7 linked regions of the Homo sapiens genome follow. The protein of the gene in region 4 purifies or fractionates together with the protein of the main gene of each other region. This does not show direct contact. Each region holds a gene or a part of one and is shown on either strand. Other genes may lie near its edges.

Region 1 (3,500 bases), on a different chromosome or scaffold from region 4:
GCTTAAAGTCCACGAGTCAATGAAAGGTATTGAGAATCTACCTAGCAGGGGCTGTGTTTGAAGCTCATCCTGCTCTCTAAAAGCTTATACTCTTAGTGGAGGCTGGAAGGGGAAGAAAGGCAAATAAATACATCATAAATCTGTAAGATAATGTCAGCTATTGAAAAGGTGACGAATATAAACTGGGGCGAAGTAATGAGGAATAACGGGGGGTAAAAGGAATAATGGGGAGGACGCTGGCCACGGCAGGCCTTCTCTGGGGTTATGACATTTGCATAGAGACCTAAATGATGAGGAAGAGCCTGGGAAAAGCTGGGGAAAATGGTCTCAGCAAGAGGAAGAGCAAGTGCAGAGGCCACGAACTAGACACAAGCCTGGCACGTCCAAGGATGGGAAGAAGGGCAGGGCAGAGTGTAGGGAATGCGGGGACCAGACCACTCCAGGCTTCTGTCGGCTGCGGCTAAGGAAGGACCTTTGGTTTTGTCCTGGTTATGATAGAGAGACACAATATAGGGTTTTAAAATAGAGGAATGACATGATTCAACCTACCCTTTAAAACAGGGGTCAGCCGGGCGCAGTGGCTCATGCCTATAATCCCAGCACTTTGGGAGGCCGAGGTGGGCGGATCATTTGAGGCCAGGAGTTCAAGTCCAGCTTGGCCAACATGGTGAAACCTCATCTCTACTAAAAATATAAAAATGGCTGGGCACGGTGGCTCATGCCTGTAATCCCAGCACCTTGGGAGGCCTTGGTGGGTGGATCACGATGTCAGGAGTTCAAGACCAGCCTGCCCAAGATAGTGAAACCCCGTCTCTACTAAAAATACAAAGATTAGCCAGGCGTGGTGGCAGGCGCCAGTAATCCCAGCTACTCGGGAGGCCGAGGCAGGGAATTGCTTGAACCCGGAAGGTGGAGGTTGCAATGAGCCAAGTTCGCGCCACTGCACTCCAGCCTGGGCAACAGAGCAAGGCTCCATCTCAGAAATATGTACATATTTATATATAAAAAATAGCCAAGTGTGGTGACGCATGCCTGTAATCCTAGCTACTTGGGAGGCTGAGGCATGAGAATCTTTTAAACCCAGGAGGCAGAGGTTGCAGTGAGCCAAGATTGTGCCACTGCACTCCAGTCTGGGTGACAGAGCGAGACTCTGTTTCAAAAAAATAAATAAATAAAAATAAAACAAGAGTCCTCTGGGTGCCGTGGCTCATGCTTGTAATCCCAGCACTTTGGGAGGCCAGGGTAGGTGGATCACAAGCTCGACTTCAAGACCAGCCTGGGCAACGTGGTGAAACCCCGTCTCTACCAAAAATACAAAAAAATTAGCTGGGCATGGTGGCGTGCATCTGTGGTTCCAGTTACTCAGGAGGCTGAGGTGGGAGGATCGCTTGAGCCTAGGAGGTGGAGGTTGCAGAGAGCCAAGATTGTGCCAGTGCACTCCAGCCTGGGTGACAGTAAGACCCTGTCTCCAAAAAAAACAAAAACAAAAACGAGTCAGCACACCTACAGCCCATGGGCCGAATCTAGCTGTGAGGCTGTTTTTGTAAATGAAGTTTCTTGGCGTTGCAGCTGGCTCCATTTGTTTCCATGTCTGTGGCTTTTTTTTTTTTTTTTTTTTTTTTGAGACAGGGTCTCACTCTGTCACCCAGGCTGGAGTGCAGTGGCGCAATCTCGGCTCACTGCAACCTCTGCCTTCCTGGTTCAAGTGATTCTCCTGCCTCAGCCTCCTGAGTAGCTGGGATTACAGTCATGTGCCACCGCACCTCGGCTAATTTTTGTATTTTTAGTAGAGATGGGGTTTCACCATGTTGGCCAGGCTGGTCTCAAACTCCTAACCTCAGGTGATCCACCTGCCTGGGCCTTCCAAAGTGCTGGGATTACAGGTGTCAGTCATCGCACCCGGCCATGTGGCTGCTTTCATGCTGCAATAGCAGAATTGAGTCATTGCAGCGGTGACCATTAGCCCACAAATCCCAATGTGCTCACTCTCTGGCCATCCACAGAAAAGGTTTGCCAGCACCTGCTTCCTAAGGTTCACTGAAGTTGCTTTGCCAGGAGGGGAATGGAATTGAATCAGCCTGAGTCAGAAGACTGATTAGAAAGCTGTTGTGAGGTTGTCCAGGCAAGAGACAGGGTAGAGCAATGGGAAGGGGGAGCGGAGCAGTGGTCAGTGTTTGATCTGAGAGAAAGAGAAGAATTGAAGAAGCGTTCTGGGTTTGGGGCCTGGGATGATGGATGGTGGTACCATTGACTATGATGGGAAAAGTTGTGTGTATGTGTGTGTGTGTGCATGCACACACACGATGTGGCTCTGTTTATACCATGTTAAGTTTGAGATGCATCTTGGCTGTCCAGCTGGCACAGTTGAATATACACATCAGGGAAGAGGCTGGAGCAGAAGGTGTAAATGTGAGAGCCATCAGTGCGTAGAAGGTATTTTAAGCCATAGGGCTAAACGAGTGCACATCAAGAAGAGGGCTCCCCTAGGCTGAGCCCAGGCCCAGATCCCCAGAAACTAGTCCTTGCCCCAACACGGGGGAGCTCCCTGAGACCTCCATACCAGTCCCCTCCTTCACCACCTGCCATGGGAACCCCTGAGCTTTGGTTTTCTCTCCTCCCAGGCTTACCAGAACTGGGTGAAGAAGAACGGGGCTGAGCACTCGCTCCCCACCCTGGGCCTCACCAATAACCAGCTCTTCTTCCTGGGCTTTGCACAGGTGAGTCCATTAGGAAAACATGCCACACATGGTACATTCTGCCATCTTGATGTTTCAAGAGCCCAGAGAGCCGAAAGGCAAGTTCCCCACAGATTGAGAACTTCCCAAGTCACTGGACTGTGCACAGCACATGTGCCCTGTCATTAGAGAGATGCACGGAAGGGCCCAAAGTACCAGTGAAGGGATTCCTGGATCTGGTGAATGAGAAGACGAGGTGATCACCCAGGGCCCTTCTGGTTCTAGGGTTCTAGAGGTTTCTTAAACTTAAGATGACCAGCCAGGCACAGCAGCCCACGCCTATAATCCCAGCACTTTGGGCGGCCGAGGCAAGTGGATCACCTGAGGTCAGGAGTTTGAGACCAGCCTAGTCCACATAGTGAAACCCTGTCTCTATGAAAAAATACAAAAAAAAAGTCAGGCATGGTGGTGGCTGCCTGTAGTCCCAGCTTCTTGGGAGGCTGAGGCATGAGAATCACTTGAACCTGGGAGGCAGAGGTTGCAGTGAACCAAGATCACGCCACTGCACTCCAGCCCGGGCAACATAGCAAGATTCTGTCTTGCTGTGATCATCCCAGATCATCCCTTCAGTCGGCATTCATCTGGTAGCCTTCTGCTGGCACTCAGAGCTACCAGGCCATTAGACAATTTGTTCTGCCCAGGAAATGAGAGATCTGGACTAAATCCAAGCTTTTCCAACTGGTGTTTGGACACAGTCCTTTGTTCAGATGGAATCGAATGCAGTTGCCTCAGAGATGCTGCGCTGGCTGAAGGAGAACAGTTTGG
Region 2 (3,500 bases), on a different chromosome or scaffold from region 4:
TGCTTCGCTACTGCGCCACATTTTAATTTTAGTAAATCCTTCTGACTCCACATTCAAAGTATCTTCAGAATCTAACAGATTTCCCTGGCTTCCTCTGCCTCCACCCACGACTAAGCTATCTTCCCCCACCTGACTTATTGCCCCCAGACTCCCGAAAACCAAACAGGTCTCCTTGCTTTCACCCTTGTTGCCCTGGGGGTCTGTTCACAACACTCGCTGGAGTGGCTGAAACACAAGACAGGCCTCTAGTGGCTTCCCACCTCGGTGAAAGCCAGAGTCCTTACCGTGGCCTCGGCTCCAGCGTTCTTGCCTCCTTGCTGCTTCTTGAACATGCCACACATCTGTCTTGGTACCTGCTAGTTATTGCCTTTGCCTGGACATTTTCTCAGATAGCTGCAAGTCTTGCTCCCTGTCTTCTCTTTGGTTTTTCTTTTTTAATTTGAGGTGGAGGCTTACTGTCGCCCAAGCTGGAGTGCGGTGGCGTGATCTTGGGTCACTGCAACCTCCACCTGCCGGGTTCAGGCAAATCTCCTGCCTCAGCCTCCCGAGTAGTGGGGACTACAGGTACGTGCCAATTCACCTGGCTAATTTTTGTATTTTTTAGTAGGTAACGGGGTTTCGCCGTGTTGGCCAGGCTGATCTTGAACTCCCAACCTCAAGTGATCTGCTCGCTCGCCTTGGCCTCCCAAAGTCCTGGGATACAGGCGTGAGCCACCACACTAGGCCTTTCCCTTTGGTTTATACTTAGATGTAGTCACCTTAGTAGAGGGGTGTCCCCGGAATAGAATTTTCCATCCCCGGCCTTCTGTCTTTCTCATTGCTGACAATAAGTAGGAAGCAAGCTAACAAGCAGCAGGCTACGGCTGCCTACAAGTGTACATAGGTATCTGCCTGTCCCCCTAACTGGGCATCAGCTCCAGGCCAGCAGGGCTTTCCCCTCTCTTTCAGTCACTGCCGTGTCCTCGCCTAAGAGAGTGTCTGGCACACAGTAGGTGCTCAGTGAGTTACTCATTGATTAAAAAGCCTGGAAAACCAGGCTGTGTCGTGAAGATAATAGGCAGCCACTGAGGTCTTACTGCATGAGAACAAGGAAAGCTCAGCTCAGTGTAGATTGCCGGACCTAAATTTTGTGGAATCGCCTTTCATACCTAAGAGGCGAGCACCGTTGCCAGCTTTGCACTTGGAGCCCCCTCTGTCATTTATTTTGTTGACTTAAAAGCTGTTTTGTGAACCCAGCATAATGGCACTTCTTAAACTTGTAGAAAAAGGGTGTTTCTTACCTGTTTATTTCAACACATCTCGTTGCCTCACCTGGAGAGGCAACTCTCCTCTGTAGAGTGAAAGACTATAATGGTGGCCATGTAGAAACTAATATTCCAGAAGGAGAGAGCTCCAAGAAGGGGATTCCAGTGAACCATATGTACACTGTGTTTGAGAGACATTAGTTCCCCACGGAGAAGGGATGGATAGTCTGTGCTTCGGGGGTCTAAGGAAGGCTTCCTGCAGGTGCTGGTACCTCCTTAGGTCTGGGGTGGTTCCTTCTAAGTTTCCTTACCCTGCCTGCATCACCTCTGCCTCTTATGACCTCTGTGCAAAGACTGGGAAGGGTCACCCCCAATGGCTGTGAACGAACCTGTTTGTGATTCTAAACAGGGCACGGGACCATCCTACAATAAAAATTACCCAGCCTAAAATGCCAGTAGTGCCAGTAGTCCCTGTTTAGAAAAAGAAAAAAAAAAAGCAACTTTTGCCTCACAACAGAGGCCCTCTTGTGTGCTGCCAGGCAGCCAGCAGATTTGCTATGCAGGCAAGTTTGGGGCCTGGTTTTTAAAGTATCCAGTTCCTAGATTCCAGAACTAAAATACACATTTGGAAAAATGATGTCTATAAAATTGAGTTTCCGGGAGTGCAAGGTTTATAGCAATTTGACACTGCTGGGAACCCAGGCGCAGTATCAGTGGACTTTTCTCCTTGAACAGGGGGCAGACCAAGTGGGGGGTTGGGGAGGGTATTGGGCTCACTCTTGGTTTCCCTTGGTGTGAGCTGCCACCATTCACATGCAGAGGACTCACCTGTGTTTCCTGCGGGTTGGGGGTAATGGTGGCATGACAGAGGGCTTGAGGACTGACCTAGCTGCTTCTCCGGAATTGGACGCCTGCTGACTACCTGCGTGTATCCAGATGGCCATTGGCCTGTGGGGGTGCAGGATGGAGGCCCTGCCCACATGGAGCTCACTGTCCTGGGTGGGAGTGAAATAAACTCTAGGTGGCAGAAGGAAGTGGTGCGTTGGATTATCACCTGGGTGCAAACGAGCTGGCAGCAGCGCCTGCCAGGTGCAGAGCCAGGAACCTCTAGGCCTTCAGTCTGACCACCTGATGGCAGGGGAAGCAGAGGGTGGTGGGGGGCCTTCATCTCAGGAGAATCTGAGTGGCTGCAGGTGCCAGTCAGGACGCTGGGCTTCTGCAGATGGGACCACATCTGGGAGGACCGAAGGGCCGGGTGCTTATGGGCTGTTACTGTGGCACTGAGCGTGAGGGGAGTGGACAGGACCCAGGCTGAGAAGTGCTGGTGTGCAGTGGTGGCAGGTGGCTCACACAGCCCTACCATAGCGCAGCCCTGCTCTGAAGGCCACTGGAGCCATTCAGAGGTCTCACAGACAAGTAATCAGATCCAGCCTACGGTAAGGAGAAGTTCTGTATCTGAGATCTGAGGCAGGGAAGCCAATTAGGAAGCTGCTCAAAGATGAAGGCGGCGTCAGCGCAGGTTCCGTTGCGTGGTGCAGCCATCTCTGGCTCTCACGTTTCCCACACATGTTCACTAAGCCCCTGTCTTGGCAAGCCATACCCTAAGCCACAGAGGACCAGGATTAAAATCAGTGATTTTCAGGGAGGGGTAATTTCCCCCACCTCATTCCCCTGAGGGATATCTGGCAACGTTTGCAGACATTTTTGTGCCACTGGTATCTGAAGTCAGGGTTGTGGCCAAACATCCGACAAGGTACATGGCCGTCCTTCCACAAAGAACTGTCCAGCCCCAAATGCCAGGGGTACCAAGGTTGAAAACTCTGGTAAAGAACCTTCGAAGGCACCAGGTTAAGTGCTTCAAAAGAACAATGCCCTGGGTGCTCTGGGAATGTGAGGGAGGAGCCAGCTGTGCCACAGAGCGGGGACAGCTGCTGGAGAAGTGCCACATTTGAGTTGGGTCTTGAAGGATGAATAAGAGTTCTCCAGGAGGAGCGTTGAGACACACGGCAGAGGTGGGGAGAAACCAGGCAGGAAACAGCATGTGTACCTGGGTCCTCTCAGCCCCACTGTGGCCTCCTGTGTGTTGCTTTTGGTACATTTCTTGCCCTGTTGGAGGTAACGGGAGGGATACTGAAGCCATCTTTGAGGTAAGAGAAGAGGTTTAGCCTCATGCGTAAGACTACTGGAGAGATGGCCTTGCCCAAGAGTAGTTGGAGATGCTTCTTTGGAGAGTGACCTCCACCTTCTGCAAGGCCC
Region 3 (4,192 bases), on a different chromosome or scaffold from region 4:
TGAAGTCATTTGAGAGAGATCTTCCACCGAACCCAAGACAAGCACTGGCCATGCCTCCTTCCCAGCATTGCCCCTGCCCTCTGTGGTCCATTCGGGACTTGCTCCATTCCCAGCCTCTCTCTCTCTCTCTCTCTCTCTCTCTCTCTCTTTGCTTTCAATCTTTAGACCCTACGTGGACCTCGTGAACTTGCTGCTGACCTGTGGGGAGGAGGTGAAGGAGGCCATCACCCACAGCGTGCAGGTTCAGTGTGAGCAGAACTGGGGAAGCCTGTGCTCCATCTTGAGCTTCTGCACCTCGGCCATCCAGAAGCCTCCCACGGCGCCCCCCGAGCGCCAGCCCCAGGTGGACAGAACCAAGCTCTCCAGGGCCCACCACGGGGAAGCAGGACATCACCTCCCAGAGCCCAGCAGTAGGGAGACTGGCCGAGGTGCCAAGGGTGAGCGAGGTAGCAAGAGCCACCCAAACGCCCATGCCCGAGGCAGAGTCGGGGGCCTTGGGGCTCAGGGACCTTCCGGAAGCAGCGAGTGGGAAGACGAACAGTCTGAGTATTCTGATATCCGGAGGTGAAATGAAAGGCCTGGCCACGAAATCTTTCCTCCACGCCGTCCATTTTCTTATCTATGGACATTCCAAAACATTTACCATTAGAGAGGGGGGATGTCACACGCAGGATTCTGTGGGGACTGTGGACTTCATCGAGGTGTGTGTTCGCGGAACGGACAGGTGAGATGGAGACCCCTGGGGCCGTGGGGTCTCAGGGGTGCCTGGTGAATTCTGCACTTACACGTACTCAAGGGAGCGCGCCCGCGTTATCCTCGTACCTTTGTCTTCTTTCCATCTGTGGAGTCAGTGGGTGTCGGCCGCTCTGTTGTGGGGGAGGTGAACCAGGGAGGGGCAGGGCAAGGCAGGGCCCCCAGAGCTGGGCCACACAGTGGGTGCTGGGCCTCGCCCCGAAGCTTCTGGTGCAGCAGCCTCTGGTGCTGTCTCCGCGGAAGTCAGGGCGGCTGGATTCCAGGACAGGAGTGAATGTAAAAATAAATATCGCTTAGAATGCAGGAGAAGGGTGGAGAGGAGGCAGGGGCCGAGGGGGTGCTTGGTGCCAAACTGAAATTCAGTTTCTTGTGTGGGGCCTTGCGGTTCAGAGCTCTTGGCGAGGGTGGAGGGAGGAGTGTCATTTCTATGTGTAATTTCTGAGCCATTGTACTGTCTGGGCTGGGGGGGACACTGTCCAAGGGAGTGGCCCCTATGAGTTTATATTTTAACCACTGCTTCAAATCTCGATTTCACTTTTTTTATTTATCCAGTTATATCTACATATCTGTCATCTAAATAAATGGCTTTCAAACAAAGCAACTGGGTCATTAAAACCAGCTCAAAGGGGGTTTAAAAAAAAAAAACCAGCCCATCCTTTGAGGCTGATTTTTCTTTTTTTTAAGTTCTATTTTAAAAGCTATCAAACAGCGACATAGCCATACATCTGACTGCCTGACATGGACTCCTGCCCACTTGGGGGAAACCTTATACCCAGAGGAAAATACACACCTGGGGAGTACATTTGACAAATTTCCCTTAGGATTTCGTTATCTCACCTTGACCCTCAGCCAAGATTGGTAAAGCTGCGTCCTGGCGATTCCAGGAGACCCAGCTGGAAACCTGGCTTCTCCATGTGAGGGGATGGGAAAGGAAAGAAGAGAATGAAGACTACTTAGTAATTCCCATCAGGAAATGCTGACCTTTTACATAAAATCAAGGAGACTGCTGAAAATCTCTAAGGGACAGGATTTTCCAGATCCTAATTGGAAATTTAGCAATAAGGAGAGGAGTCCAAGGGGACAAATAAAGGCAGAGAGAAGAGACAGAACTAAAAATACGAGGAAAGGAGAGTGAGGATTTTCATTAAAAGTCTCAGCAGTGGGTTTCTTGGGTTATTTAAAACATCACCTAAATAGGCCTTTTCTTCCTAATTGGCCATCAAATTAAAGCCTATCCTTTCTCAAGCAGGAGCTGGTATTGTAGGGAGTGGCCGGGTATTCTGGGCTGGGCTCTTCTGGAGTAGGGGGTCAGCAAACATTGTCTGCAAAGGGCCAGATACTGAATCCAGTACTTTCAGTTTGGCGAGCCGTGAGGTCTCTGTCGAAACTACTCAACTCTGCCGTCCTAGCACAAAAGCAGCCATAGACAACACACAAACGAGAGGGCTTGGCTCCCTTCCAGGAAGATTTATTTAACAGGCTCCCAGCTGAATTTCACTCACAGGACACAGTTTACTGATCTCTGTTCTAGTGAGTGGGTCAAAAAGCATATGCATCCTTATCCGTCAACTCATCAGCTCTTCCTCAAGGCAACCTGAGGCCAGACACCAAGAAACCAAGCGTATCTGCTCTAAAATGACTTGTTCCTGGGGAATGCCTTCAACCAAAACACAGCTAGTATTTCTATGCCCCAAATCCAATCCCAGTCTTTCATGATCCATGCCGGCGGTTGGGTGGGGAGGGGAATCATTGGTTGGGGGAAGGGAGGAAACCCCACCTCCAGCCCCCGCCACCGGGCTCCCTGGGCACCCAGCAAGATCTGGGGCTGCAGAGAACAGAAGAGCTGGTGCACTTAATCCAGCTCTGCCCTTGGGGGGAGGAGGACCTGTGTGTCAGGCTCTGCCATGGGAACGAGTGTAAACCGTGGCTGTCTCCTGCAGTGAGCCACCGCGGCAGGCACGTTGACTGTTTTACTGACATCACTCAAAAGCTAAAGCAATAACATTCTCCTGCGTTGCTGAGTCAGCTGTTCATTTGTCCGCCAGCTCCTGGACTGGATGTGTGAAAGGCATCACATTTCCATTTTCCTCCGTGTAAATGTTTTATGTGTTCGCCTACTGATCCCATTCGTTGCTTCTATTGTAAATATTTGTCATTTGTATTTATTATCTCTGTGTTTTCCCCCTAAGGCATAAAATGGTTTACTGTGTTCATTTGAACCCATTTACTGATCTCTGTTGTATATTTTTCATGCCACTGCTTTGTTTTCTCCTCAGAAGTCGGGTAGATAGCATTTCTATCCCATCCCTCACGTTATTGGAAGCATGCAACAGTATTTATTGCTCAGGGTCTTCTGCTTAAAACTGAGGAAGGTCCACATTCCTGCAAGCATTGATTGAGACATTTGCACAATCTAAAATGTAAGCAAAGTAGTCATTAAAAATACACCCTCTACTTGGGCTTTATACTGCATACAAATTTACTCATGAGCCTTCCTTTGAGGAAGGATGTGGATCTCCAAATAAAGATTTAGTGTTTATTTTGAGCTCTGCATCTTAACAAGATGATCTGAACACCTCTCCTTTGTATCAATAAATAGCCCTGTTATTCTGAAGTGAGAGGACCAAGTATAGTAAAATGCTGACATCTAAAACTAAATAAATAGAAAACACCAGGCCAGAACTATAGTCATACTCACACAAAGGGAGAAATTTAAACTCGAACCAAGCAAAAGGCTTCACGGAAATAGCATGGAAAAACAATGCTTCCAGTGGCCACTTCCTAAGGAGGAACAACCCCGTCTGATCTCAGAATTGGCACCACGTGAGCTTGCTAAGTGATAATATCTGTTTCTACTACGGATTTAGGCAACAGGACCTGTACATTGTCACATTGCATTATTTTTCTTCAAGCGTTAATAAAAGTTTTAAATAAATGGCTTCCACTTGAGTAGCGTCATTGTCTGAGAGGGTCATTGATGTCCGGTGCACAGGGGGACAGCTGTGAGCAAGTGGGCTTTTACGTCAAGAGAATCCTATGCTTCTGTGGATGTTCAGCCTACAGGGAAGGAAGTTAGATGAAGAGGACTACCCTAGGCTTCTCCGTCAGAGGGACCCTGTCCAAGCCCCTGCCTGAGTCACCCAGACAAGGAGGAGAATAAATTTCATGCAGTTGGCCTGGAAGTGCCACCCCCACACCCCATTAGGCAGGTCCTTAAGGCTCACTCTGGTCTCACCTTTGAGTCTCCCCTGTGAGTCTCCCCTGTGGCTTGGCCACCCCTTCTCTCAGACTGAGCCTGCAGCAGACACCACCAGCTTAACAGCTGAGTGGCCTGGCATATAGAGGGAAGCCCACTGCCTCCTCCCCAGCTCTTGCTCACGACAGCAGAACAGAGCTGGAGCCCCTGGTTTACGTGATCTGTGCCACTGTTGGTGTACCT
Region 4 (3,500 bases):
TGTCATGAACTTCCCAAGTTCTATTTTAATATTGTTATTAATAACTAATAAAAATAATAGAATATACTCCATGGGCAAAAGAGCTTTACCTCTGGTTCACTGCTAGGTCTCCAGGGCCCAGAAAGTTGCCTTACTAAATGAGTAAACTATTATTGTTGTTGTTATTATTATTACAGTTAACAATTACTGTACTCTTGGCTGGGTGCAGTGGCTCACACCTGTAATCCCGCTTTGGGAGGCCGAAAAGGGCAGATCACATGAGGTCAGGAGTTCAAGACCAGCCTGGCCAACATGGTGAAAGTACAAAAAATTAGCTGGGCGGTGGTGGCAGACGCCTGTAATCCCAGCTACTCTGGAGGCTGAGCCAGGAGAATCGCTTTTACCTGGGAGGTGGTGGTTGCAGTGAGCCGAGACAGCGCCACTGCACTCCAGCCTGGGCAACAGAGCGAGACTCCATCTCAAAAACAAAACAAAAAAACAATTATCGTACTCTTACCGTGCACCAGGCAATGTACTATATGCTATGCATATCTGGGGCTCCTTAGGAGGGAGACTTACTGCATCTCTCTTTCTCTCTCTCCCTCTTTTTCACACACACATGAAACTGAGTTTCTTGGTGGTTCAATAACTTGCTAAAGCCTCAGGCCAATGAGCAAACAGGATTCAGACCTAGGCTGCAGGATTCCACGGCCTGTGCTCTGTGCACTGTAAAACACAACCTCTCCTAGCAAATGTAATTTCAGCAAGGAAAAACTTCATGAAGCACTCGACGAGTTATGTGAGTGGGCAGGAAAGCAGTAAAGGAACTTCAGGTTATGCAACTGCAAAGTCAGAGAGGCAGAGAAGACACTGAAGCACTATTAAAGCACTATTTATAGGATCCTGAGCTCAGAGTTCACAGGAAACAGATCTAGGAGTCACTGAAACCTGTGCCAGGAGATTGGCTGCAGCAGCCACACCAGCCCAGCAAGGCTGGTTATCACTGGGGCCTCCAGAACAAACGAGAATCCTCAACCCTGCCCCTGTACAGAACCACAGCACAGACCCTCCTTGAACATGTGTGGAGTTCTGCTCTCCATGCCTGTAGGGTAATTGGGGCAGAGAGCACTAATTTTCACTTACTAAACTCCTCTATGTTTCAAGCACCAAGCCAGGCACATCACATGTGTCATCAATAATTCTCACCAACAACCCTGTGAATTAAGTCATATTCTCCCCATTTTACAGATGAGAAAACTGAGACTCAGAAAAATTTATTAACTTGCTCAAGACTTCATGGCTGGGAAGAGGCAGAGCTGGATTCAGGCCAGTGTCCCTGCCTCAGAGTTCAGGAGGAGCAGGATCAAGGGACAACCCCCTTCTGATCAAGGCAGCTGAGACCCCTCAAACTGCAAAGACCAACCTAGGGGACTATGAGCAAGTCTGTAAAATCATGCAAAGACCAGATGGGGCTCCTGGGGGCTTGCAAAGGTGCTGAAAATGTGCACGGTGCTGAGCAGGTGGCGCACCTTACAGAATCTTTCTCCCCATCATCTTGTGAAGTCGCTTTTATTGTACCCACATTCCAAAGAAGGAAACTGGGTCCAGGAGCTGTTTAGTGACTTGCTCAAAAGTTGTTCTACAGATGGAGGAGTCAGATCTTCTTCTTCTTTTTTTTTTTTTTTGAGACAGAGTCTAACACTGTTGCCCTGGCTGGAGTACAGTGGCAGGATCTTGGCTCACTGCAACCTCCGCCTCCCAGGTTCAAGCGATTCTCCTGCCTCAGCCTCCCGAGTAGCTGGGATTACAGGCACCTGCCACCACGCCCAGCTAATTTTTTGTATTTTTAGTAGAGATGGGGTTTCACTATGTTGGCCAGGCTGGTCTCAAACTCCTGGCTGGAGTCAGTCCCAATCAGTTCCTTTTCCCTCCCTGCCATTTCCCTCCCTCTTAAAGTTTAAAGGACAACTCAGGACAAGCAAAAGTGAGTACGATTCTTGAAAGATGGTATAAACTCTGTCTTTGAACCTTTTTAAATTAACGTCAGACTGCTCCATGGATGGCAGGTCCTCAGTTCAGGTAAATTGCAAGGTTGAGAGAACCCCTCTAAGCTTTAAAATCCATCAGCCCTTCCCAATGGCAAACCCATGAGGGTCCCTGCCAGGCTGAAAGGCTGAACTGTGTGGCGGGACCCCTTCTGGCCCTCTCGAGTCCCCTCCAGCCATTGTCCAGGCATTGTCCTCAGGTGTGCAAAGATGGTGGCACCTTCCTTCCTATCAGACCCTTCCAGGAGGGGAAGGTGGGCTCAGATGGACCCACCACTCTGGAACAGAGGGAAAGCTGAGCAAAGTAGAGCTGTTGAGAGTTCAGAAAGGTGGGAGAGAATGGGCTGCTTCCCCTAGGACAAAGAGAAGGATCGCAGAGGGATTCCTAAGCACTGCAGTAAACAGCAGCATCACCTGGAAGCAGGGCCCTCCAGTGGGAACCAGGTCTGTCTTCAGTTTAATTTAGCCCAAGGGGCATGTACAAATACCTCACTCCTGCCCTTCACATTGTCTCTGGGGAAAAAGCATAAGCGCTGTGCCTCAGTTTCTCCATTTGTGAAATAGGAATAGTTACATCTTCCCTGCCTCCCCAGCCCTATCTGAACCTAAGAGCTATGCCCGAACACAAAAGCTGATTCTTAAATGATGGGAGCTGAACAGCAGGCTGGCAGGGGATAATGGCAGGCTGCCTGACTCCTCCCTTCTGCCCCAGGCCCTGCCCTGGAGCCATTATGTGCTGAGATGGGGGATGAGGTGCTCGGCTCAAATTGCCAATAGGTCAGCACCTATGTGGTTTAGAACAAGGCAAAATGGTTTCTAATGTAGCAGCCAAGGCTGAGGTTAGACCCAAAGGAAAAAGTGCTGCTCTAATAATGACTCAACGCAAGGCAGTGTTTGTGAGGATGCTCCCTGAATTTCTGCGTGAGAGCTTAGATGCCCAGCGGCATATGGCCTGGGCTGGTGGCCGACCTGCCTAGAGACAGAGTAACAGGTGCGATCCCAGGATACTTGGAAGTCGGCATGATCAGTCATCTCTGAGGACCTCCCATGCACTCTGGGCTGCTGCATCACCACCAGGCTCATCTCAGGAAACTCACTCCCTCCTCTCCTGCCCCATGATCTTCCAGCCCTCAGTGACCCTCTCCTTACCTGTCATGGCTGAGACATCCAAGAGAGAGAGCCCTGTTGCCAGCGCAGCAAAGGCATCAAACTGCCTATTCCAGCTGCAAGTGGAGAGGACACAGCTGCTTGCCGTTGGTTTTGGGGAGGGATGCAGGTTCTGGGGTCAGAGAGCAGAGTGAGGCTCCCTCAGAGGAGCACTGTGGCCGGGCCCCACTCTGCAAGCTGACGGCAAGCACCTCTGGGTCTCTTGGCTTACCCGAAGAACTTTCCCCACCCCCTCCCTTGGGTTTTCCCCACTGCTTATTACTGGCCTCAGCAACCTAACTGCCACCTGCCCAAGCCTCAAAGGACCTG
Region 5 (3,500 bases), on a different chromosome or scaffold from region 4:
ATCTGCAGCCAAATCTGGCCCCCAAAGAACTGCATCCTAAAAGTGAATCCATGTGGATCAGATGCCGGAAGGCGTCCTTCCAAGCGAGGCAAGACAATGCTCCCATTCTTCTCATTTGTTCACGGTCCCAATGGGCATTAAAACCTGAAAACCTTGTGTACTCAAGTCTTTCTTACAGTATGTGTTGGATCTGTGTACATATAAACCTTGGCATACAAACACCTAGAACTTTACTCTCTTGCAGCTAGAACCTTTGTTTCCATGATGCTTGAAGTTCAACCTGGTATTTCCCATCAAAAGATATTTAAAACAATTCTAGTAGAGATGATGTCAGTAGCTCTAGCATACAGAGAGAACGTGCTTACTTGAGCTGAGCCAACCACAGTGGTGTGAGAAGCAAAGAAGGTCCCCAGCCTAGGATGGTGGGAGGAAAGCTGCTCCCTACTCTATGCAGTTGCTGTGAACTGCCATCTCTTCTTCGCATCCGTAGGGTTGACCAGGGACTCTAGAATATGAATCTCCAGATAGGAAAGAAGGTAGCAAAAGGGAAATGGGCAAGTAAACCGTGATCGCAGACAGAAAGCTTGCAAGTGCTAGAGGAGGAAGGCCTACTTGTCACAGCCTTGCTAAGTAACAGCAGCAAGCTATTGGTGCACCACTCACCCCTCAAACGGAGGCAAATGAACCTCAACTTAGAAGTCTCTGAACGTCTCTCTCCTATTAACCAACTTGAACACCTAAGAAATAGGAAAAGATAAAGATTTGCAAATGACCCTGAGGTATAAAAATCCACTGAGAAGTTGCTCATTGATACATCAGAAAAATTTCTGAATCCCCAGATCACTTTCCTATTCAAACCCCTATATCCCTACTAAATTCTGGGTTAACCTACAACTCACCCAGATACCCTTGATGGACAGAAGCACCACTAGCCTAGAGCCCAGAATGGAACTACATGGCCCAGGACAAGAGCCAGTTTCCTCAGTAAGGAAGTAAGCAATGGCACCTCAGAGGCCTTCTGGACCCTAACCTACCAGCTCAGTCTTGTATTTCTCCTCAACCCTTTGCAAAGAAAAGCCCATATCTGGGCTCAAAAGCAGAGGGGAGTTTTTCCCATGCCACCAGGGAGCTTGGGTCATGCTACATAGCGTGCAAAGCCAGCCCTCCCTGGCCTGCTCTTGCTTGGAGCCCCAGAGAACAAGGTGAGCACCTTCCTGTGCCAGCCCGGGTGAGTCATCTGCCTAGGATCACCCCTGGGGAACCACAGGGGCAACTCTGGTTGCCCAGGAGACCTCACCTTCCTGGGCCTAGGCAAGGCGAGGATGGCTACAGATCCCCGGCTGGCCTTCAGATGACAGAGGTGGTTGTGTGTTTTTACTAGGCAGGACACAGACTTGATCAGCCAGGGCCTATACAGGTCTGCTCCTCAACCCAAAGAGAGAATTTGAGGGCAGAAGTTCATGGTACCTGCTTAGCTCAAATTCCTATTGCTCTATTTCCTAGGGAAAATGTATTTCTATTTGTATCTACCATTATTTTCCTAGGCTTGGAAAAGCTGGTCCTTTAGTGTACAGTGCTGACGACAGCACAGGTAAATATACTCACAGTTACTGTTCCGTATTAGTGTGAAGCTCTGCATTCAACATTTGCACTGTTCCTTGAAGTCACATTAGAAGATGGTAAGATGCCCCACTCCCTCCCACTTGGGGATGCCAACCACTTCAACATGGCATTGAACTCCCTGCAGGGAGTGAGGTGAGGAGGGAGGAAAGAACAGAGTTCAATGTAACCTTTCAAGTTCAAATTATGTAAGAATCAAGATTTAAGCCAGTTGATTAGCACCCCGATATCTGTGTAAGTCTTAAGATTTTGTTTTCCTAAGAGTTTAAATGTATGATTTTGAATTTGCCTGACGCATATGGGACAAGCAGTGAAGGGACGGAACCTCCAAACAGCAGGAGAAAAGCCCTCCTCATTTACAGAGCAGGCAGAGTGTCCCAGGACTATCTGGATGCTAGGGATTTAGTTTCAGAGGAACCGTGGGGCACCAGTGGCTGCTCAGGAGCAGGTGAGGCTCTGTCCCACCCAGAGAGGCCCCGTAAAGGAGGGTGAGGCCTCCCATCAGTATCCAGAACTCAGGGGTCTGCATCTGGTCCACTCGACCCACTCCCTTCCACACTTGAAAAGGTCACCGCCGCGGGAGGGCAGTCCAGCGGAGGTGCCAAAGAGCAGCCACATCGAGACCGCAGCTATTCCACGGTCTTTCTCTGCCGGACCCCACTGGCTTTGTAGAGATGAATGGCAGAGGCCTTCCAAGCCAAAGTCATTCTCCTGCTGCCCCAAAGAAGCAACAGCCCAGTGTTTCTCCTCCAACCATCTGAGAGGTTGGTTTCCTGAGGGAAAATGGGGCCTGGAGGAGGAATCTGGCCGCTCAGACATGAGTGTTGTTTGAAGGGTCCTAAGCTCTCCCCAAAGGAGATGTTAGCCTTCATTCCTTCAGGGACCTGACAGGAATTATTTTAGATTCCCTAATGTTATAAAATAGTGTGACTAACAGAAGGTAAAGAATAACAGAAAATGAATACGAACTTGGCGGCTAAAATTTCATCCTTTGGGAGCCTCACTGATGCCACTCCTGCCGAGCTCTTTTATAAGAGAATAATTTGCAAGAAGCCATCACACCGAGCACGTAAGACAGTATTAAGAAGTCTGCTTCTCCCTGAAGTCAGAGGCAGCAGCTGGCATCCCCTCTCCTCTCCCCAGACTCAGTTCTTTAGGATTTATAAAGGAACAGCAGAGCTCTGAAAAGGGCACCAACACACTAGCTCTGATTCCAGAGGCTCTCCCAGTAGCAAGGCATCCCCGAGAGACTGTGTGTGGAGAAGCAGACGTGAGCCCAGATAGGTTGACAGGGCAGAGTTCCTGAGGCCAGAGAAGCTGGGCTAGGCAGGCTTGGCTCCCCACAGCTCAGGGAAGGCCAGCACTGCGCAGACCCGAAGAGGGGGATAGATGCCCTCTTCCAGCATGGGCTACGCTTTGCTTTGTTGCAAGGACCCCTCATCTTTATACACTCATCACACTGGTGTTGTGCTCAGTGAGAGGCATCTTAAGAAACTGACTTTTGTATCTAGATGGCTCTGTTTAAAAAAAAGGATGCTTAGAGTGGGGTCCCCTCTAAGGTCAAGCTACGCGGTGGGGCTTCATCCCACGGGGGCAGGTTGCGTGCCAGTAGCAGGCCACTCAGCACCCTCGGGGGGTCCCTGTGACCCTCTACACCAAGTGAGATCAGTACTTCCCCCCACTAAGGGACACGGCACCTTCTGAGGAAGACACTCCAGGACTGGCATCCCAGAGGAAATACTGAGCCGGGCATGCACAACACCCGAGGCACCAAACTGCTCACCAGGCAGCCAGCCCGGCCCGCTGCTGTCTGCTCCTCAGCCACGCTCCCTGCCCCGCACACAGCCCAGCCGTGGCTGAACAGACTTCCTACCTGGAGT
Region 6 (4,037 bases), on a different chromosome or scaffold from region 4:
AAGCGCTGGGCTGGGAACAAGGGGAAAGGGAAAAGCAGGTACTCTGGAGTCACTGTCAGTGGGTTCGAACCCCAGTTCCACCCCATCCTGGCTTGGGGACCCTGCCCCAGTTTCAAGTTGCTTATCTCAGCCTCAGTGTCCTTATTTGTAACACAGAGCACACGCGAATCCCTGTTCCTGAGGCTGGAGGCACCCGTGGCGTACAGCAGGAACAGAGGCCGAGTATCCCCTCCTTCCCTTCCAGCCCCCCGGGTCCCTTCCCTGGAGTGACAAAGCGCCTGCTCTTCATCTGCCTTTCTCACCCCTCCCGACGGCCCCCACGGAGGGAACGCACGTTCGCAACAGCCCCACTCTTAGCCATTGCTGGGAGTCTTGGAAGTCATCAGGGACCCTGGGGCCTGGGGAGCACGTGCAGAGGTGTGGGGGAAGGTAGCCATGGAGCCCCAGGCCTCTCCTCCAGACTGCCCTGCCCTCTGGCCCTCCCTTCTCTTCAGGGACCAAAGCAGGAACAAAGCACCTGCTGTTAGTAGCCAGTGTCCCGGAAGCCACTACTCCACAGGCCTGAGCCTGGGTGCTGCCCTGGAGAGGTGAGGGCGGCAGGAGGGTCCCATCCAAGCACCATCAGAGGCCCCAGGTCCCGAGGACACCCAGGTTAGCCAGAATCTCCAAGCTGAGATGGGGACAGGGCCCAGTGGGGCAGCAGGGCCAGTGCCAGCCAACCCAGCCTGCCAGGTCCATAGAAAGGGCAGCAGGTGAACTGTGATTTGGTCCCTGGAAAACAGCTAGGAAGTCCAGGCAGAGGCCCCTGCAGAACAAGCCAGGCTTTCTCACACGAGGAGGCCGCCGATGAAGAGGCCCGTGGCCTGTGGCCTGGCTCAGTAGTGGGGTCTGCTCCAGGGTCTCCTAAGTCAGGTGCCCCATCATTTCTGCCAAAAGAACAGGACCCCGTCCCCTGTCCACACCCCAGGACACGCCCAGCACAGGATGCCCTGCAGGCATCAGAACCACACAAGCCATTTCCTCGGGGTGGGGGGCACCCCAAGGAACCCACAGACTGGCCCCTCCTCAGCTGGGAAAGCCGCACCCTCGCCCCTACTCTGAAGCACCCCAGGGGCTGAGGGGGGCCCCTCACAGAGACCCCTGCCTACAGGGGATCCCAGGGCCAGAACCACAGGTGAGGCCTTCACAGATTCCAGCACAGGTGCCCAGAGCCCAGCCCCCAGGAACTCCCTGTTTCTGCAAACTGCCTTCCTCGCTGAAGGGTGCTCCACTGGGGACGTCAGCGCCAGTCACCACCTGGGCCAGCCCTGGAGTGTGCGCTCCCCGGGACCCCGGCCTGGGCCACCTGGCCCACATCACCACTGGTCACACACGTCTGGCTGAGCAGCCAGCAGGCCCTTCTCGGACTCTCCATGCTCACCATCAGGCCCAGGGTCCTCCTTCATATTCCTGGAGCTTCTGGGGCTCCGTTGGAAGCCATGACTGTAGGCCCGTTCCAGCAGCCTCAGTGCCCTCCCAGGGCTGGCAAGGACAGCGAGTGCAGGGAGCTAGCAAACCCTCACCCACTGCCCCTGGAACCACGGGGAAGGGGGCCTCTGGGGCCACAATGCCCCCACCCCAGGCCATTGCAAAAGCCACTGGCTGGGCAGTCCAAACAGGGCAGGGAGAAATGTAGCAACAGCCTGGGGACGGCTAACAGGGAGAGGGGGCAGGCAAGAGCCTTCTCCAGCAGCCACCCCGCCCAGGAGCAGGCAGCCCCCGCCGTCTTTGGCAGCCCAGTCTGACCTCTGGCCCCCAACCCCAGCCTGGCAAAACCAAGCTCCCACCTTCTGGAAGGCGTCCAGGGGAAAATTTCAGCCCCGCCGAACCCTAGTCCTAACTCTTCCTTCCCTTCGCTTGGAAGCTGGGCCCCCGGAGCTGTAGGCCAGGGGCGCGCTCCCCAGCACGGAAGCAGGTCCCCTCCGGGTCCCCCACCTCCCTGCGAAGAGGAAAGGGAGAGAAAGGGGAACCCGCCCCACAGGTGCGCCCATCACCGGGCGGACAGTCAGGAGGGGGTCGGAGGGAGGCCGAGGGGTGCCCCCACGCCGTCGTGCGCCCTGATCAATAGCCCTGGGGCAAGTCCCCGCCGCCCCGGCCTCGGTTTCCCCGCTCAGGAAGCAGGGCTGAGCCTCTCCCAGCGCGGACCGGCCCCCTTTCTCTCCGAAAGCTGCTCCACCCCCGGAACCCCACGCCGGGCTGCAGGGACGCGGCGGAGGCCGAAACCGGTGTAGACGCCCGGGGCCAGGGCGGGGGGTGGGGTGCTGGGCACTGTGACGCCGGCTCCTTGACCCCGTGACTCCGGGACCCCCTGACTCCGGGACCCCCTCCTGTGCCTGCCGCCGGCCCAGGCGCGCTCTCCCCGGAGCCCCGGAGCGGGGCGGGACGGGCGGGGCAGGAAGGAGGGAAGCCCAGAAGAAAGTTAGGGAAGCGGAAGCGGCGCGGCGGTTCCCCGGCCCCTCCCGGCGGCCCCCGGCCTTGCCTCATGTTCTCCACCGTCCGGCCGCCGTGGCGCAGCAGGCAGACGAGCGAGGCCACGGCGGACACCGTGAAGCACAGCGCGCAGTACAGGGCGACCTTGGCGTAGAACTCGGCCGCGCGGCTCAGCTGCACCAGCAGCAGCAGCAACAGCAGCGCCGCGGCCAGACACGGCCACAGCTCCATGGCCCGGCCCGGCGCCCGACGGCGCCGCCAGCTCGCTCCCGCTCCCGCTCCCGCTTCTCCCCCGCGCGCTCAGGCCCCTTATTGCGAGGGCGGCGGGGCTGGGCGGGGCGGGGCGCGGCGTGGGGGAGGAGCGCGCGGCAGGGAAGGGCTAGGTGCGGCGCCCCGCCCCGACACTGTCCCCAACAACGCCCCGACACGGTCCCCTCACCAGGCCCCGCCCCGCCACTGTCCCCAACCCCGCCCCGACACGGCCCCCCCTTCCCGCCCTGGGTCACCCGGCCCGGACCTCCCCTCCACGCTCCCTCCCCACAGCCTTCTGCCAGGTTACCGAGGCTCTGGCGCTCTGCTCCCACCCTCCCGGTCCCAGGGGACCCCCCCATCATGGCTTGCCGGTGGCTCGGGCTCTGGCGCTGCCCCCCATGGTCTGGGCCTCCTGCCCCGCCCGGTGCCCCCTCCCCCCGCTGCCGGGGCAGCCACAGGCTCCCGCGCGCAGAACCACAGCTCCCCAAGGGCGTAAAACCAGCGGGGATGCGCCCGTGCCAGGCCGGTGGCCACGCAAAGGGCCGCCGGAACCGCCCCCGAGTGACCAGTGGCCACCTGGCAGAAAGCCTGGCTCTTAGGGTGTTCTCGGTCCCCTGCGGGGAGACTCGTGGGGGCGCGCAGGCCAACTGGGGCGTGTGTCTGGGCGGGGCTGGGTTGCCCCACCCTGGGTGCCAGAAGTAGCCTTGTCACCAGGGACGCTCCGGGGGCAGGCGAGGTGGGTGTCAGGTGGCGGCGTTCACATCCGCTTGGCAGCACGGCCAGCGTGGCAGGGCAAGGTGCAGCTGGGACAAGGGCAGCAGTCACCTGGCCCGGCCCCCACCCGGCGTCCCACCTCAGGGAGCAGATGGAGATTGAAAAGCAGTTTCCTGGGGTCCCTCCTCATAGGGACTCTTGGGTTTGCTGCAGTTGCGGGAGTGCTGGCCGCCCTGCGCTCTAACGGGTCAGCAGGGGAGCACGGCCCCTCTTTTTTCAGATGCAGAGTTGAGCTGTTAAAACATTTCCCTGAACATTGTAACCACCCCCCAAACTGTACTGAGAGAATGACAAATACAGAAACTGCTCTTCAAATGAATGGGGAACTGCGGTCCTGAAGGACGTGGGGTCTCGCTGCCTGGGCTCAGCAGCCCCTGCCCAGGCGGTCCCAGCTTTTCTTGAAAGTGGAGACACATCCTTTTGCCTTAGGCCTGTAGGCATCTTACAGCGAAACCCAGGAGAGCATTTTCCAGCCCAGTCTCCTTCCAGATCCATATGGGCTTCATCTGGAATCAGCTTGGAGGGCCTGGCTTGACCTCTTT
Region 7 (2,241 bases), about 47 Mb from region 4:
GATGGTCAATTTAACGTGTCCACTTGGCCAGGCCATTGTTCCCAGATATTTGGTCAAACACTAGTTGTAAAGGCATTTTTCAGATGAGGTTCATATGTTAATCAGTCAACCAGGCAGAGTGGATGACCCTTCACAATGGGGGTGGGCCTCATCCAATCAGTTGACAGCTTTAAGAGACAGAAGACCCACCTTCCCCAAAGAAGAGGGAATCTGCTAAAAAGTGGCCTTCTGGCCATGCACAGTGGCTCACACCTGTAATCCCAGCACTTTGGGAGGCCAAGGCGGGCGGATCACGAGATCAGGAGTTTGAGACCAGCCTGACTAACATGGTGAAACCCCATCTCTACTAAAAGTACAAAAATTAGCTGGGCGTGGTGGCATGCACCTGTAATCCCAGCTACTCGGGAGGCTGAGGCAGGAGAATCACTTGAACCCAGGAGGTGGAGGTTGCAGTGAGCCAAGATCACACCACTGCACTCTAGCCTGTGTGACAGAGCGAGACTCCGTCTCAAAAAAAAAAAAAAAGTGACCTTCTATTTAAGCACAGCATCAACTCTTCCCTGGGGCTCCAGGCTGCCCTGAAGATCTTGGACTTGTCACTCTTCAATCACATGAGTTGAAAAATACATCTCTTTCTTACACGTATACCCTCCACCCCTCTATTGATTCTGCTTCTTGGGAGAAACCTAATATATAGTATAAAAAATGTACATCTCGAGACACACACAGAGGCTAAAGCAAGTAAGAGCTATTATATAGTGGGACCTATTGCTACGTTTTCACATCCTTGGAAAATGGAGTTTATAAAACCAGGGAACCAGCAGACCTGCAGCCAGCCAGGTGGAGAAATGGGGCCGGGTGGGCCATGCGGGGGGCTCCAAGGACCTGGTGTGAGCATGGGGCCAGCTGGGGCTCTGCACCCTCCACCTGGTACTGGCCCCCTCTGCTGTGGGAATCCTGGTTTTCCAGGACACCCGCACCTCCATCCCACAGGACTGGCTGTCACAGGTGATGCCGGGCCTGTCACATCCTGAATAGGTGACAGCCTCTCCACGTTGGTTCTCTCCACTTGGGCACAGCCTCTTGGGGCAGGCCACCCCACCGTTCTGCTAAGCAAGTGCCCTGGGGTGAGTTATTTCTGTCCCCAGGGGGCTCGTTGCTCTTGAAATGGGCAGGTGGCATCTGGTCAAGCAGCCACCTTACCTGGGAGCCCAGCACTCTCCCCAAATCAGAGCAGGGCTGCTCTCGTTGAGCTGGGAGGGGAGTGGGGGGCTTGATGCCAATGACAAGGCCACTTGCTATCCCCTACTGTCCTGGAACTCCCAGGGCAGCCCTGCCCCAGTGCCCAGCACATCCTAGGAGGCAGGAATGAAGAGGACCCCTCCTGCCAGTGCCCGCACTGACCCACCTCCACCTCCACTGCCCCATCCAGCCCTGAGCCGGCATCTGCCCTACTTTGCAGATGTTAGGGACATACTCAAGGCCACCTCCCTGGCTGCTGGCCCAAGCTGGCTGAGCTGGCTAATACACGAGGCCTTCCCTTCTTCCTAGAAACAGGGGGCAGCTTTGGTGCCCCCAAGGACAGACGCTTCTGCAAGGAGAAAGCTTAGCATGTGTCTGCCAAATGCCCCGCTGGGCCAGCTCTGCCCACCTCCTCACCTGCAGCGTGTAAAGATAAGGCAGCCAGACACAGTCGCCCCAGCCCAGGTACCACCCGAAGTGGTCATGGCAGATGTCAATGGTCTTCAGGTACCAGGTTTCGTTCCAGAAGAAGTCAATCACGTAGATGGCCTGCAAGACAGAAGCAGCCGCTGACCACCCCCGGCCCTCCTGGGGCCCCCATGGACCTCGGGGAAATCACACTCCACGCAGATGCAGCAGGGGGTGCTCGGGAGCTGCTCAGCAACTTCCTCAATGCTGGGGCTGTTCCTTCCCTGCGGCTGGGGCTGTTCCTGCCTGGGTCATGGGCAGGGCTAAGGGCTTCCTTGTCCTCAGAACCACCCCGAGCCCATGGCCCTGGCATCTCTCCCAGCCCAGGTTCTCAGGGCTTGCAATGGCGCGTGCCAAGGGGAAGGGATACATTCATCCCATCCAGGTCAACCTCCTGCCCGAGCAACGTCCACAGCTCCTGACAGGCCTCCCTCACCCTCTCGGGTTCTCCTAGCCAGCTCCCGCTGGCTCCCTGGGTGACGCTTCCGAATGCACCTGATCGCTGCCACCCTGCACCCCAGCTCAGCACAC

The links.
Region 1: the proteins of TMPRSS4 (region 4) and ECE1 purify together in Homo sapiens (affinity purification with mass spectrometry, with the first as the bait; one large-scale study listed by BioGRID). This does not show direct contact.
Region 2: the proteins of TMPRSS4 (region 4) and WDR1 purify together in Homo sapiens (affinity purification with mass spectrometry, with the first as the bait; one large-scale study listed by BioGRID). This does not show direct contact.
Region 3: the proteins of TMPRSS4 (region 4) and STC2 purify together in Homo sapiens (affinity purification with mass spectrometry, with the first as the bait; one large-scale study listed by BioGRID). This does not show direct contact.
Region 5: the proteins of TMPRSS4 (region 4) and CNNM2 purify together in Homo sapiens (affinity purification with mass spectrometry, with the first as the bait; one large-scale study listed by BioGRID). This does not show direct contact.
Region 6: the proteins of TMPRSS4 (region 4) and AGPAT2 purify together in Homo sapiens (affinity purification with mass spectrometry, with the first as the bait; one large-scale study listed by BioGRID). This does not show direct contact.
Region 7: the proteins of TMPRSS4 (region 4) and DHCR7 purify together in Homo sapiens (affinity purification with mass spectrometry, with the first as the bait; one large-scale study listed by BioGRID). This does not show direct contact.

Annotation. Positions count from the first base shown.
Region 1 is NC_000001.11:21,220,964-21,224,463, reverse strand, and holds part of ECE1 (endothelin-converting enzyme 1), read left to right. Parts: intron 1-2,621; coding exon 2,622-2,717; intron 2,718-3,500. UniProt on the Homo sapiens protein: Converts big endothelin-1 to endothelin-1.
Region 2 is NC_000004.12:10,110,300-10,113,799, reverse strand, and holds part of WDR1 (WD repeat-containing protein 1), read left to right. Parts: intron 1-3,500.
Region 3 is NC_000005.10:173,314,223-173,318,414, reverse strand, and holds the end of STC2 (stanniocalcin-2 precursor), read left to right. Parts: intron 1-165; coding exon 166-568; 3' UTR 569-3,692; downstream 3,693-4,192. UniProt on the Homo sapiens protein: Has an anti-hypocalcemic action on calcium and phosphate homeostasis.
Region 4 is NC_000011.10:118,083,578-118,087,077, forward strand, and holds part of TMPRSS4 (transmembrane protease serine 4), read left to right. Parts: intron 1-3,173; coding exon of another isoform or gene 3,174-3,180; exon of another isoform or gene 3,181-3,386; intron 3,387-3,500. UniProt on the Homo sapiens protein: Plasma membrane-anchored serine protease that directly induces processing of pro-uPA/PLAU into the active form through proteolytic activity.
Region 5 is NC_000010.11:103,078,794-103,082,293, reverse strand, and holds part of CNNM2 (metal transporter CNNM2), read right to left. Parts: 3' UTR 1-3,500.
Region 6 is NC_000009.12:136,684,658-136,688,694, forward strand, and holds the start of AGPAT2 (1-acyl-sn-glycerol-3-phosphate acyltransferase beta), read right to left. Parts: upstream 2,801-4,037; 5' UTR 2,701-2,800; coding exon 2,519-2,700; intron 1,540-2,518; exon of another isoform or gene 1,421-1,539; intron 1-1,420. UniProt on the Homo sapiens protein: Converts 1-acyl-sn-glycerol-3-phosphate (lysophosphatidic acid or LPA) into 1,2-diacyl-sn-glycerol-3-phosphate (phosphatidic acid or PA) by incorporating an acyl moiety at the sn-2 position of the glycerol backbone.
Region 7 is NC_000011.10:71,436,153-71,438,393, forward strand, and holds part of DHCR7 (7-dehydrocholesterol reductase), read right to left. Parts: intron 1,792-2,241; coding exon 1,660-1,791; coding exon of another isoform or gene 1,652-1,659; intron 1-1,651. UniProt on the Homo sapiens protein: Oxidoreductase that catalyzes the last step of the cholesterol synthesis pathway, which transforms cholesta-5,7-dien-3beta-ol (7-dehydrocholesterol,7-DHC) into cholesterol by reducing the C7-C8 double bond of its sterol core.